Regions from separate parts of the Homo sapiens genome. Here region 1 is linked to region 2. Evidence: fine-mapped expression QTL. A gene starts in region 2. The other region holds a variant in brackets. All regions are shown on one strand. Distances are from middle to middle.

Region 1 (5,340 bases), 22 kb after region 2:
GGGCACGGGCGACGGATGCAGGCTCTTCCTTTTTGTCCTTAAGTGGCTTTTGAAAGAGCCCACCTGGCTCAGAGAAGGCTGAGAGAGAAGAGGCTTTTTCTATCTTTCTCTGGTCCCCTGCGGAGCGATTCTCGCGAAGGAGTCGCAGGACAGCAGACACCTAAGGGGAGGTGCCGACGATGGTGTTGCCACCGCCCCAGCCAGAGTGCTCCCCGTCCCTCTGTCCCTTGACGCCATTCACTTATTGAGCCATGTGTTCACTCCCTTGCTCATTTATTCGACAAATTGTCCTTCACCCCTACCCTGGCTGAGGCTGGACCCTGGGGACACCCAACGCTGACGTATCGGTGATCCCTGCCCGCAGGTGTGCCTGCTCTGGTGACCACACTAAGGGGCAGGGGGGAATTTCAGTGAACATGTTCCCAAGCCCCAGGCCCTGGGAGTGGAGGCCTGGCCACAGGTGGCGGTAATGGTGGTGGGTGCACCCAGCCTGGCCTGGCCTGGCCGCGGGTGGCAGTAACGGCGGTGGATGCACCCAGCCTCATTGTTCCCTCAGCAACTCATTCATTCAGTCAACATTTGTTGAACATTTACAGTGTGAGTTGAGGTCCTTCTCATGTAATGGGAGCCCAGACCTGCCCCCTACCCCTGCCCCCACCAAGGGAGGGGGGTTGATCCCCTGGCACAGGTCGAGGCCCTGGACCCACATCCTTTGTCTGCCTCTCCACCCCACAGTGCCCATTCATCGACGATTTCATCCTGGCCCTCCACAGGAAGATCAAGAATGAGCCCGTGGTGTTTCCTGAGGAGTGAGTTGTCCACCCAGGGGAACAAGGGGGCTACCACCCGCTCCTGGTGTCTGAGTTTTAGCAGAGCTTTTGCCCTCTGAGGACCCCACCCCAGCCTGCAGATATGAAGGTGGCGGTGCTGTTCCCTGGGAGGGACCCCTGAATAGATGGACGGGAGGGACTCTGGAGCCAAGGGTCTCCGCAACGTCACTGTGTGGATGGGAACCCTGAGATCCAGGGTTGGCCAGGGATGACCACAGGCATCATTCACACCACTCCTTCACCGCAGGCCTGCCTGGGGTCAGTGGCGCCAGCCCCACCCAGCCCCTGGACTCAAGGGGAACTTCTCCTTCCCCCACTCAGGGTCAGGGAACTTCAAGATGCCAGTGCGTGCTCCCCATTTCACAGATGGAAAAGAGGATGCTCTGGAGGAGAGCGGTCAGGGGGCTGGGACTCAAGCCACTCTTCCTCCCCACTCTTCCCATTGTGACCGAGGTCTCTGAGCGTAGCAGGGACGTCGGGGAGGCCTCTTGCTCATGCATGGTTCGCCTCATGACGGCCACCGTGGCAGCCACAGCCTGAGCTCCCAGGCTCCTCTTTTCAGCAGTGGATTTCAGGAGTGAAATGGAGGCCGGGTGCGGTGGCTCACGCCTGTAATCCCAGCACTTTGGGAGGCTGAGGTGGGCAGATCACCTGAGGTTAGGAGTTAGAGACCAGCCTGGCCAACATGGTGAAACCCCATCTCTACTAAAAATACAAAAATTAGCCAGGCGTGGTGGCGCACATCTGTAGTCCCAGCTACTCGGGAGGCTGAAGCACGAGAATTGCTTGAACCCAGGAGGCAGAGGTTGCAGTGAGCCTGGGCGACAGAGCAAGACTCTGTCTCAAAAAAAAAAAACAGAAGAAAGAAACTGAATAAGGCCGGGTGCGGCGGCTCACACCTGTAATTCCAGCACTTTGGGAGGCCAAGGAGGGCGGATCACGAGGTCAGGAGATCGAGACCATCCTGGCTAACACGGTGAAACCCCATCTCTACTAAAAATAGAAAAAAAATTAGCCGGGCGTGGTGGCGGGTGCCTGTAGTCCCAGCTACTCGAGAGGCTGAGGCAGGAGAACGGCGTGAACCCGGGAGGCAGAGGTTTCAGTGAGCTGAGACCGTGCTACTGCACTCCAGCCTGGGCGACAGAGCGAGACTCTGTCTCAAAAAAAAAAAAAAAAAAAAAAAAACAAAAAAAAAAAAACAAAAAACAACAAACAAAAAAAGAAAATGAAACGGGACTTGTACTCAGCGACTCCTGCTCTCTTCTGCTTATTTCCTGTGTGGTCCCCAAGCCCTGCTGAGCCCTCCTCTTCCCTGTCTCTGGGCCTTGTTGCCACTTATACCCCTTGCCTCATTCAGGCCTCAGGCCCCTCCCCAGACTTATCTAGCCACCTTCCCCCTGGTCTCGCTGCTGCTGGCCTCCCTCCAGTCCAGCCAACACATTCAGGCGGGGACAGCCCTGATAAAGCACAACAAATCTGCCTGCATCTCTTGCCTGAAGTTTGTCTGAAGCTTCTCAAAGCCACACCCTGGCGCTAGCATTCACACGTCTCCGGGTTCTGCCACCCGCTCGTCTGGGGCCGCCTCACTCCCTTTCCCGAGCACCAGCCAGCTGGCTTCTGTCCATTTCCTCCTCATCCTGTGGTTGCCTTCCCTCCCTGCCTCCACAGTTGTACCCCTGGTGCCTCTCTTCCTGCTATACCCCCTGCTGAGGGGTGTCTTTCCCCTCAGCCCAGGAATTTTAAAAGGGATGAAGCATCTAAGACAACAGGGGGAACCGAAGTCAACAGTCCTGAGAGTGGCTTTCTGCTCCCTAGTCTTGGAAGGATGGGCTCCCCAAGACCACTGGTGGCAAAGAAACCTGGGGTTTGGCCGGGCGTGGTGGCTCACGCCTGTAATCCCAGCACTTTGGGAGGCCAAGGCAGGCGGATCATGAGATCAGGAGATCGAGATCATCCTGGCTAACACGGTGAAACCCCGTCTCTACTAAAAATACAAAAAATTAGCCGGGCACGGTGGCGGGCACCTGTAGTCCCAGCTACTCGGGAGGCTGAGGCAGGAGAATGGC[A/G]TGAACCTGGGAGGCGGAGCTTGCAGTGAGCCGAGATTGCGCCACTGCACTCCAGCCTGGGCCACAGAGCGAGACTCCATCTCAAAAAAAAAAAAGAACCCTGGGGTTTGGGCAGAGAGAGTTGGAGCTGATGTGGCGCTGAGGGGGCTGCTCCCTCCCATCTGAGTCTCCCATCTCTGCCTGCACTCTTCTGGCTGGCACTGTGCCAGCCTGCTAACCTCCCTGGGCCTCAGTTTCCTCCTCTGTCAAATGAGAGAGGATCTTCTCTGGGTGTAGAAAAGGACGAGGTGGTGAGTGGGTCTGAAGGCCTCTGGTGTCCCATAAAGCGACTCTCCTCACCATCTTTGCCACCCATTGGGGTGTCCAGCACCCATGGAACTCTGTCTGTGCCTCTGTCCTGGAGGGAGACTTGACCTCCTGCTCAGGAAAGGCTCTCCAAGCCCTTGTTGTGAAATTCCTGCCTGCTGTCCGGAACTCAGTCTTCCCATCCGAGGGACGAAGGTTTCGGGAAGAGAGGTGGACAGGAAGGGGTCCTCATCAGCGGTCCCACCCTCCTCTCCTTCCTTCGCCCTCTCCAGGCCAGAAATCAGCGAGGAGCTCAAGGACCTGATCCTGAAGATGTTAGACAAGAATCCCGAGACGAGAATTGGGGTGCCAGACATCAAGGTCGGGGAACTGGGGGTCTTGGGCTGGGCTGGGACACAGAAAACAGGAGTCACTTTCCCTTTCTGGAGGGATCAACACCAGGATGCATGTGTGTTGGGTTTGAGTCTGTGGACTTTGGACCCCTCCAGGTGATTCTGGTAATGGCCTGACCTCTCCCCCTCTCCCTGCCCTCCCGGCCCCGACAGTTGCACCCTTGGGTGACCAAGAACGGGGAGGAGCCCCTTCCTTCGGAGGAGGAGCACTGCAGCGTGGTGGAGGTGACAGAGGAGGAGGTTAAGAACTCAGTCAGGCTCATCCCCAGCTGGACCACGGTGGTAAGAGAGCCGGGGTAGATGCTCCCTTGTCCTGGAGGGCCTGGGGGACCTGAGCCTTGCTCTGTGCCTGGCTCCTTGGGGGGACAGAGGCCTGCCTGGCCAGCCAGCTGTGATCCTGGGCCACTGGAGCCGCCATTCTGCTGGAGGCCCATGGAGAGGGAGGTCTTGTGGTCGGGAGACCAGGAGGCTTGGTGAGGAGAGTGACTGATTTAAAGAAATAGCGGGCGTGGGGCCGGGCGCGGTGGCTCACGCCTGTAATCCCAGCACTTTGGGAGGCCAAGGCGGGCAGATCACGAGGTCAGGAGATCGAGACCATCCTTGAAACCCCGACTCTACTAAAAATATAGAAAATTAGCTGGGCGTGGTGGCGGGCGCGTGTAGTCCCAGCTACTCGGGAGGCTGAGGCAGGAGAATGGTGTGAACCCGGGAGGTGGAGTTTGCCGTGAGCCGAGATCGCGCCACTGCACTCCAGCCTGGGCCACAGAGCGAGACTGCGTCTCAAAAAAAAAAAAAGAAGAAAAGAAAAGAAAGAAATACCGGGCGCGGTGGCTCACGCCTGGAATCCCAGCACTTTGGGAGGCCGAGGCGGGTGGATCACGAGGTCAGGAGATCGAGACCATCCTGGCTAATACGGCGAAACCCCACCTCTACTAAAAATACAAAAAAATTAGCCGGGCGCAGTGGTGGGCACCTGTAGTCCCAGCTACTGGGGAGGCCGAGGCAGGAGAATCGCTTGAACCTGGGAGGTGGAGGTTGTAGTGAGCCAAGATCACGCCATTGCACTCCAGCCTGGTTGACAGAACGAGACTCCATCTCAAAAAAAAAAAGAAAGAAATAGATGGCCCTTGCTCAGCGGCAGCAGTCACCGTGACTGGAAGAAGCATTTCATTCCGTCCAGACAGTTACTGAGCTTCCGTTCTCCAGGCACTGCACAAGGTGCCGAGGACAAGGCAGGGGAACGGCCTGGGCAGCCTTTGGATTGGAGGAGTGGCCCCAAAGCCCACGTATCAGTTAGGCGGCGCCTGCGTCTCCCCCAGAGCCCACGTATCAGTTAGGCAGCACCTGTGTCTCCCCCAGAGCCCACATATCAGTTAGATGGGCCTGCGTCTCCCCCAGCGCCCGCGTATCAATCAGGCAGTGCCTGCGTCTCCCCCAGATCCTGTGTATCAGTTAGACGGTGCCTGCATCTCCCCCGTGCCCACGTATCAGTTAGACGGCGCCTGCTTCTCCCCCAGAGCCCACGTATCAGTTAGACGGCGCCTGCTTCTCCCCCAGAGCCCACGTATCAGTTAGACGGCGCCTGCTTCTCCCCCAGAGCCCACGTATCAGTTAGACGGCGCCTGCTTCTCCCCCAGAGCCCACGTATCAGTTAGACGGCGCCTGCTTCTCCCCCAGAGCCCACGTATCAGTTAGACTGCGCCTGCTTCTCCCCCAGATCCTGTGTATCAGTTAGACGGCGCCTGC
Region 2 (5,360 bases):
AATAGTTACATGTGACTAGTGGCTACCAGACTGGACAACACAGGCCAGCCCCTGCCATCTCCCTCAGGGCCTTGGCCTTCTGCCCTCTTCCCCAACCAAGACCTATCATTTAGATTTTATAAGACTGGAACTTCCTCTTCTGCCCCCCCTTCTTTCTCCAGACACACCTGCTTTTGCACTTTCTGCCCCCTTCCCTTCCAAGTGAGCAGAAAAGGGTCCCTCCTCTGTATTCAGCCTCACCACCCAGCCCAGAGGCTGCCCAGCAGAAGCCACCTCCATTCTCCTACCCCTACATCTGTCCCCCTCTTCTGCCTCCTCCTGGCCCAGGTTCCCCAGCAGCTCTGCCCCTCTCCCCTCACTGCAACCCTTCCAGAAAGACCAGTCCACACTTCCCTCTGCAATTGGCCTCCACCCCAACCACTTCTCCTAGGTGCCCTTGCCAAGGTCACTGGCAGTGTCCTGGTTGCCAAGTCTTAAGCAGACACTTGGGCCCCATATCCTGCTTGGCCTGACAGCTTCTCACATTGTTGTCCAAGCCTTCCTTGTCGAAAGATTTCCTTCCAGCAGCTCCTAGGACACACCCTTTCCTGACTTCCCAGCCTGTCTGGCGTGCAAGGAAAAGACAGGTTTCAATTGCAGCTCTGCCACAGTTCACTGTGTGTCCTTGGGGGAAGTGGCTTAACTCTCCAAGCCTCCTCTGTGAGTCAAGGATAATAACAACTTCTTTTTTTTTTTTTTTTTAAATAGAGACAGAGTTTCACTATGTGGACCAGGCTGTTCTCAAACTCCTGGGCTCAAATGATACGCTCCACCTCAGCCTTCCAAAGGGCTGGGATTACCGGCATGAGCTACTGCACCCGGACAATAATAGCTTTTAGTAGGGTTGAGGAAAGACCTGTAAACAGCACCTGGCATACAGTCGAGCTCTGCCCCTCAATCTATCCACCCTCTCAATGGTGGAGTCCACTAGTTGTTCCGGATATCTGTTCTCCCGGTAGCAATTCAGTCCTTGGTTCTTGGTTGGGCATGTGGCTGCCCAGAATGGAAGCTGCATTTCCCAGCTTTCTCTTGCAGCTGGGTCTGGTCATGTTAAGTAAGCTCAAGCGGTGTATGTGAAAGTGCCACGTGGCAACTTCTGGGAACTTTCCTGAAAAGAGAGCTGGTGCAGACCCTCTGCCCTCTTCTTCATCCTTTTCTCCACTCCACTGCCTGGAATGCGTTATGTGATTGCTGGAGCTCTAGCTGGTATCCTGAACCATGAGGTCAAAAGCCACACTCAAGTTGCTGGAATTATTCATTCAACAACATCCACTGAGCACCTGTGCCATGCGACAGGCTGTGTGCTGGACGAATCAGGCACAGTGCTTGCCATCCAGGAGCTCCCAGTCCCAATGAGGAACCAGCAGGTAAACAGATGCCAGGTACAAGGAAGTACCTGGGTGGGGCCACTAACCCATGCTGGAAGTGGGGAGGTCATGGAGAAGGTTTCCAGGCAGAAGTAGGATTGAATTGAACCCTGAAAGACGAGTAGGCGTTAAACAGGCAGGTGGCTGGGAGTAAGGCTATACAGGGCTTGATTAGACCTATTCTCACGGTGAGCCATAGAAAATGCCTCTCGGTGGACTTGTGTTCCTGAAAACTTGCTCTGGGTGCCAGGGAGAGAAAGGCTAGTAGGAGGTGAGACTGGATGGGGCTGGAGGCCAGGGAGGAGGCTGCTGCAGCAATCAGGGACAAGATGGTGGTAGCCTGAGCTAAGGGAGGGGAAGTGGGGTGGAGAGGAGTGGGCCGATTCCAGGGATAGTTAAGAGGCAGTATGGCAGGGCCTGGAGATGGACTGGTTGGAGCAGGAAACAGGGAGGCAGCAGGTGACTCCCAGGCTCCTGGCTCCACTTCGAGACAGGGACGCAGGAGGTTAGATTTGGGGGAAGGATATGGGGCAAGTGGTGGTGCCAGAGGATTCACACGCGGAGGCGTTAGGGGAAGAGGTGGCGGCAGAGTCCCCAGGAACAGCCACAGCGAAGGTCACCTCACTGTCCTGCTGAGTTCCCTCTACTCCCTCGGCCCTCGCTAGGCCATTCCTGTCGCCGGCTCACCGAGCAAGCACTTCACTCTGTGCTAAGCCACCTCTCGGCCTCTCTGCCCCCGCCCCGCAGAAGCTACACTCCTGGGCCTGCCATTCAAGGCCTTCCTCCCCGGGCCTCGCCCCTCCCTCGCACGCACCGCGCCTCGCCCGGGAGGGAGGGGCGCTCTGGCTCCTGCAGGCCGGGATGGGGGCGCAAAGGGTTTGGCGGGGAAGCACGGTCCCCTGCAGGCCCAGGAGAAGGGCCCACGCCGCGGCCGGGAGGGACTTCGGGGACCCCAGGACGCCGGGGGCGTGGCGAGGTCGGCCCCGCCGCAGGGGAGGGAGGGCCCCTACCGCGCCGCCCACCGCGGTCCCTTAGTCCAGGAGGGGGCGGGAGTCCCGGGCTCCGATTGGGCGGCGCTGGCGGGGCCGTTCGCTCCGACCAATGAGCGCCGGCCGGGCGCGGCGGTGGGCGGGGCAGCGAGCGCTGCCCGGAGCCGCGGCGCCCGCGGGCTGAGCTCGGCGATCTGGGCCCCAGCGAGGCGGTGGGGCGGGGCGGGGCGGGGCGGGGCGCGCAGCAGGAGCGAGTGGGGCCGCCCGCCGGGCCGCGGACACTGTCGCCCGGCGCCCAGGTAGGGATCGGCGGGGCGGGGACGCGGGCGAGGAGCAGGAGGACGAACGCCTTAACACCTGCCCCGAGCCTGCAAGGGAGAGGCGGGGGGGGTCTGCCAGGCCGCGTCTACGAGGGAGCTGGGATCTGGTCAGGGCGGGGATCCTTCCCCTTCTGTCTGCGGGGCCGGGTCTGCGGGGTGCCTCGCGGAGTCTGCTCGGGTCTGCGCCGGCCGCCGGGACCGCATCGCCGCGGGTGCCCCGCCGTCTGCGTTCTTCCCCGCTTCTGTCTGCGGACCGCATCCATCCCCGGTGCACTGTCCCCCGCGCCCGGCTCCTGGTGGAGGCCACGTCTGTGCGGAGTGGGCCCGGCCCGGGGCACCCACGTGCGGTTCTCCGCGGAGCGCTCCTCCCACGGCCCGCCGGAGCGTCTTCCTGCAGGAGCCGGGGGCGGGGTGGGAGATGAATGGGGCGGCGGCGGCGCGCGGCTCAGGCTGCGCAGGGTCCTGCCTTGGCTGGGGCGAGAGGGGGCGGCAGAGGCGGGCGCTGCGGCTTCGGGGCCCGGGAGGCGCAGGGCTGGTGGCTGGGGGGGTGTCCACGTGCGCAGGGACCTGCGTGTGCTGTTTGGAGGCGGGTGTGCGTGTGTCACGTGGACGCGGGAGTGTGCCTGTGTCTGCGTGGGGGGTGCAGGACAGGATGGAGTGGTGTGTGAGGGCGGGTCACGCGGACACGGGCGTGTGCCTGTCAGGGGAGGGGGTGTGCTCAAGTCTTGGCGTTGCAGGGCTGTGCAGAGAAGGCTGTGTCACAGGCCACAGGACCGGGCCTTGGTGGTGTCCGCAGGGCGGGCACAGGAGTGTGGGAGGGGCACACAGCCTGTGCGCGCTGGAGGATCCCAGGGAAGTGGCGCTGGCCTCCCCAAGCCCTGCCCTCTTTCCTCCAGTACATACAAATTGACCCCCCACTGCGTCCCAGGCGCACACACTCTGGGGACCCTTCGCCTCTTCCTCGGTCTCCCACCGTCAGTCCTCACAGCAGCCATGGGAGTCGTTTTAAACCTCACCTAACCGAGGCACTCCCCTGCTCACAACCTCCCCCTGGCTTTGGGGGCCTCCTGGGCTCTGTCCACCAAGCTCTCCCCACCCCCAAACCAAGCCCGGAGTCCCAGCCAGGAAATGACTCTCCTATATGCACAGTGCAAACTTCCATCCTCGCCTCATCCTGAAATCCTGCTCAGTGCTCAGAAGAGAGCTCAGGTGCCACCTCCTCTAGGAAGCCATCCCTGAGGCCAGCACAATGAGTGAGGGGGCTTTCTCTCCAGATGTAACTCCTCTTGCTATCAGGTGCCTCTTATGTGGGGAAGACTCCACTCCAGCCACGTCAGCCTCCCTGCTGTTCTTCATACTGAGCAAGCACTGTCCCCTCATGGCGTTTGCACCTGCTGGTCCCTGCACCTGAAATGCTCTTCCCCAGATAACTACACTGCCTACTGCCCCTTCCTTCCTTCAGGTGTCTGCTCCAGTCCTGCTCCCAAAAGGCCTTCCTCAACTACACTGTATCAGCAGCATCTCCCAGCCCCTTTCTCTTGATCCTTCTTACTCGGCTGTATTTTTCTTCCTATATGTACCACTTGACATATCATATCTGAATCACTGGCTTTCTTGTTTGTTGCTTCTTGCCCCCACGAGAAATTAAACTGTATGAGAGCAGAGACTTGGTCTTTTTGGTTCACTGCTGTATCTCCCCACACAGGCTTGCACAGAGTCTGGCAGACAGCAGGTGCTCCGTGACTATTTGTGCTTGCATCCCAGGCGTCCATGTCCCTGGCTGCTCCCTAGCCTGTGACCCCCCCCCCAACCTTGCCCCCAGTCTGAGGCCACTTCTGCTCCTCTATCCATGACATTCCGAGTTCCTGGAAGGCCAGGTCTGGGAGAACTATAACCACATTTGCATGTTGGAAATCCCTCCAGCAGCTGGTGTGGAGGATGGGGTAGGGTGGGGTGGAGGTGTTAGCCTGGAGTCAGGGAAGACCCACATAGTGGGAAACGAAGCAGTGGGTAGAATCTGGACTTCTAAGGGGTTTGACTTGGTGAGCTCACCCAGCAGGTAGTGGGGAGATCAAGGAGGGCTCAGAAGAGGCGATGTCTGAGCTGTCCTCCAGGCAGCAGAGGAGAGGGAGGTGTGTTCCTGGCAGAAGGCACAGCTTGTACTGAGGCCTGGCAGCAGAACAGAGTATGCAATTTGGGAAGCTGTGGTGTGGCTGCAGTGGAGAGTAAGTGTGGGGTTGTGGGGAGCAAGGGTGGGCAACAGGGAAAGGACGAGTGACAAGGAGGGCTCCCGGATTGCTGACCTGGGTCAGGAAAGAATGGGGAGGGTGTGGTACCCGTCTCGCAATGGAGACAGAGGAGGACGAGCAGGTTTGGGGAAGATGCTGAGTTGAATCTGGGGCCTGTTGGATCTGAGCTGCTCGGGAACATGGACGGGGAGGTGGCAGCTAGCTGGAAAGAGTGGGGCTGGAGGCACAGACCTGGTGTGGAGGATGAGGAGGGGCAGAGGATGAGGCCTGGAGACCATCAGCCTCCGTGGGTGGGCCAGGACGATGCGCTGGGGGTAGCTGTGCTGAGTCAGGCAACAGCCCGTATTGGTGCTTGGGGGCTCCCCAGGGATGGTGGGAGCGGGCGTCCTCACAGCA

What was found. PIP is the estimated chance that this variant, and not a neighbour inherited with it, causes the effect.
Region 1: its variant is the best candidate, but not a certain one, in a credible set for the expression of CAMKK1 in whole blood (TOPMed, PIP 0.53).

The regions. Positions count from the first base shown.
Region 1 is chr17:3,868,023-3,873,362 of GRCh38, reverse strand. CAMKK1 (calcium/calmodulin dependent protein kinase kinase 1) reads left to right here. Exons shown (of 16, transcript NM_032294.3): 12 at 736-809; 13 at 3,475-3,562; 14 at 3,748-3,876. Among named protein-coding and RNA genes, the nearest start is that of CAMKK1, 22 kb to the left of the region's middle. RefSeq lists enhancers at 4,567-5,066, 5,067-5,340. The variant A/G (reference allele first, on the strand shown) is at 2,897.
Region 2 is chr17:3,890,273-3,895,632 of GRCh38, reverse strand. CAMKK1 (calcium/calmodulin dependent protein kinase kinase 1) reads left to right here and starts at 2,580. Exons shown (of 16, transcript NM_032294.3): 1 at 2,580-2,694. RefSeq lists silencers at 2,134-2,673, 2,704-2,883, 3,024-3,273.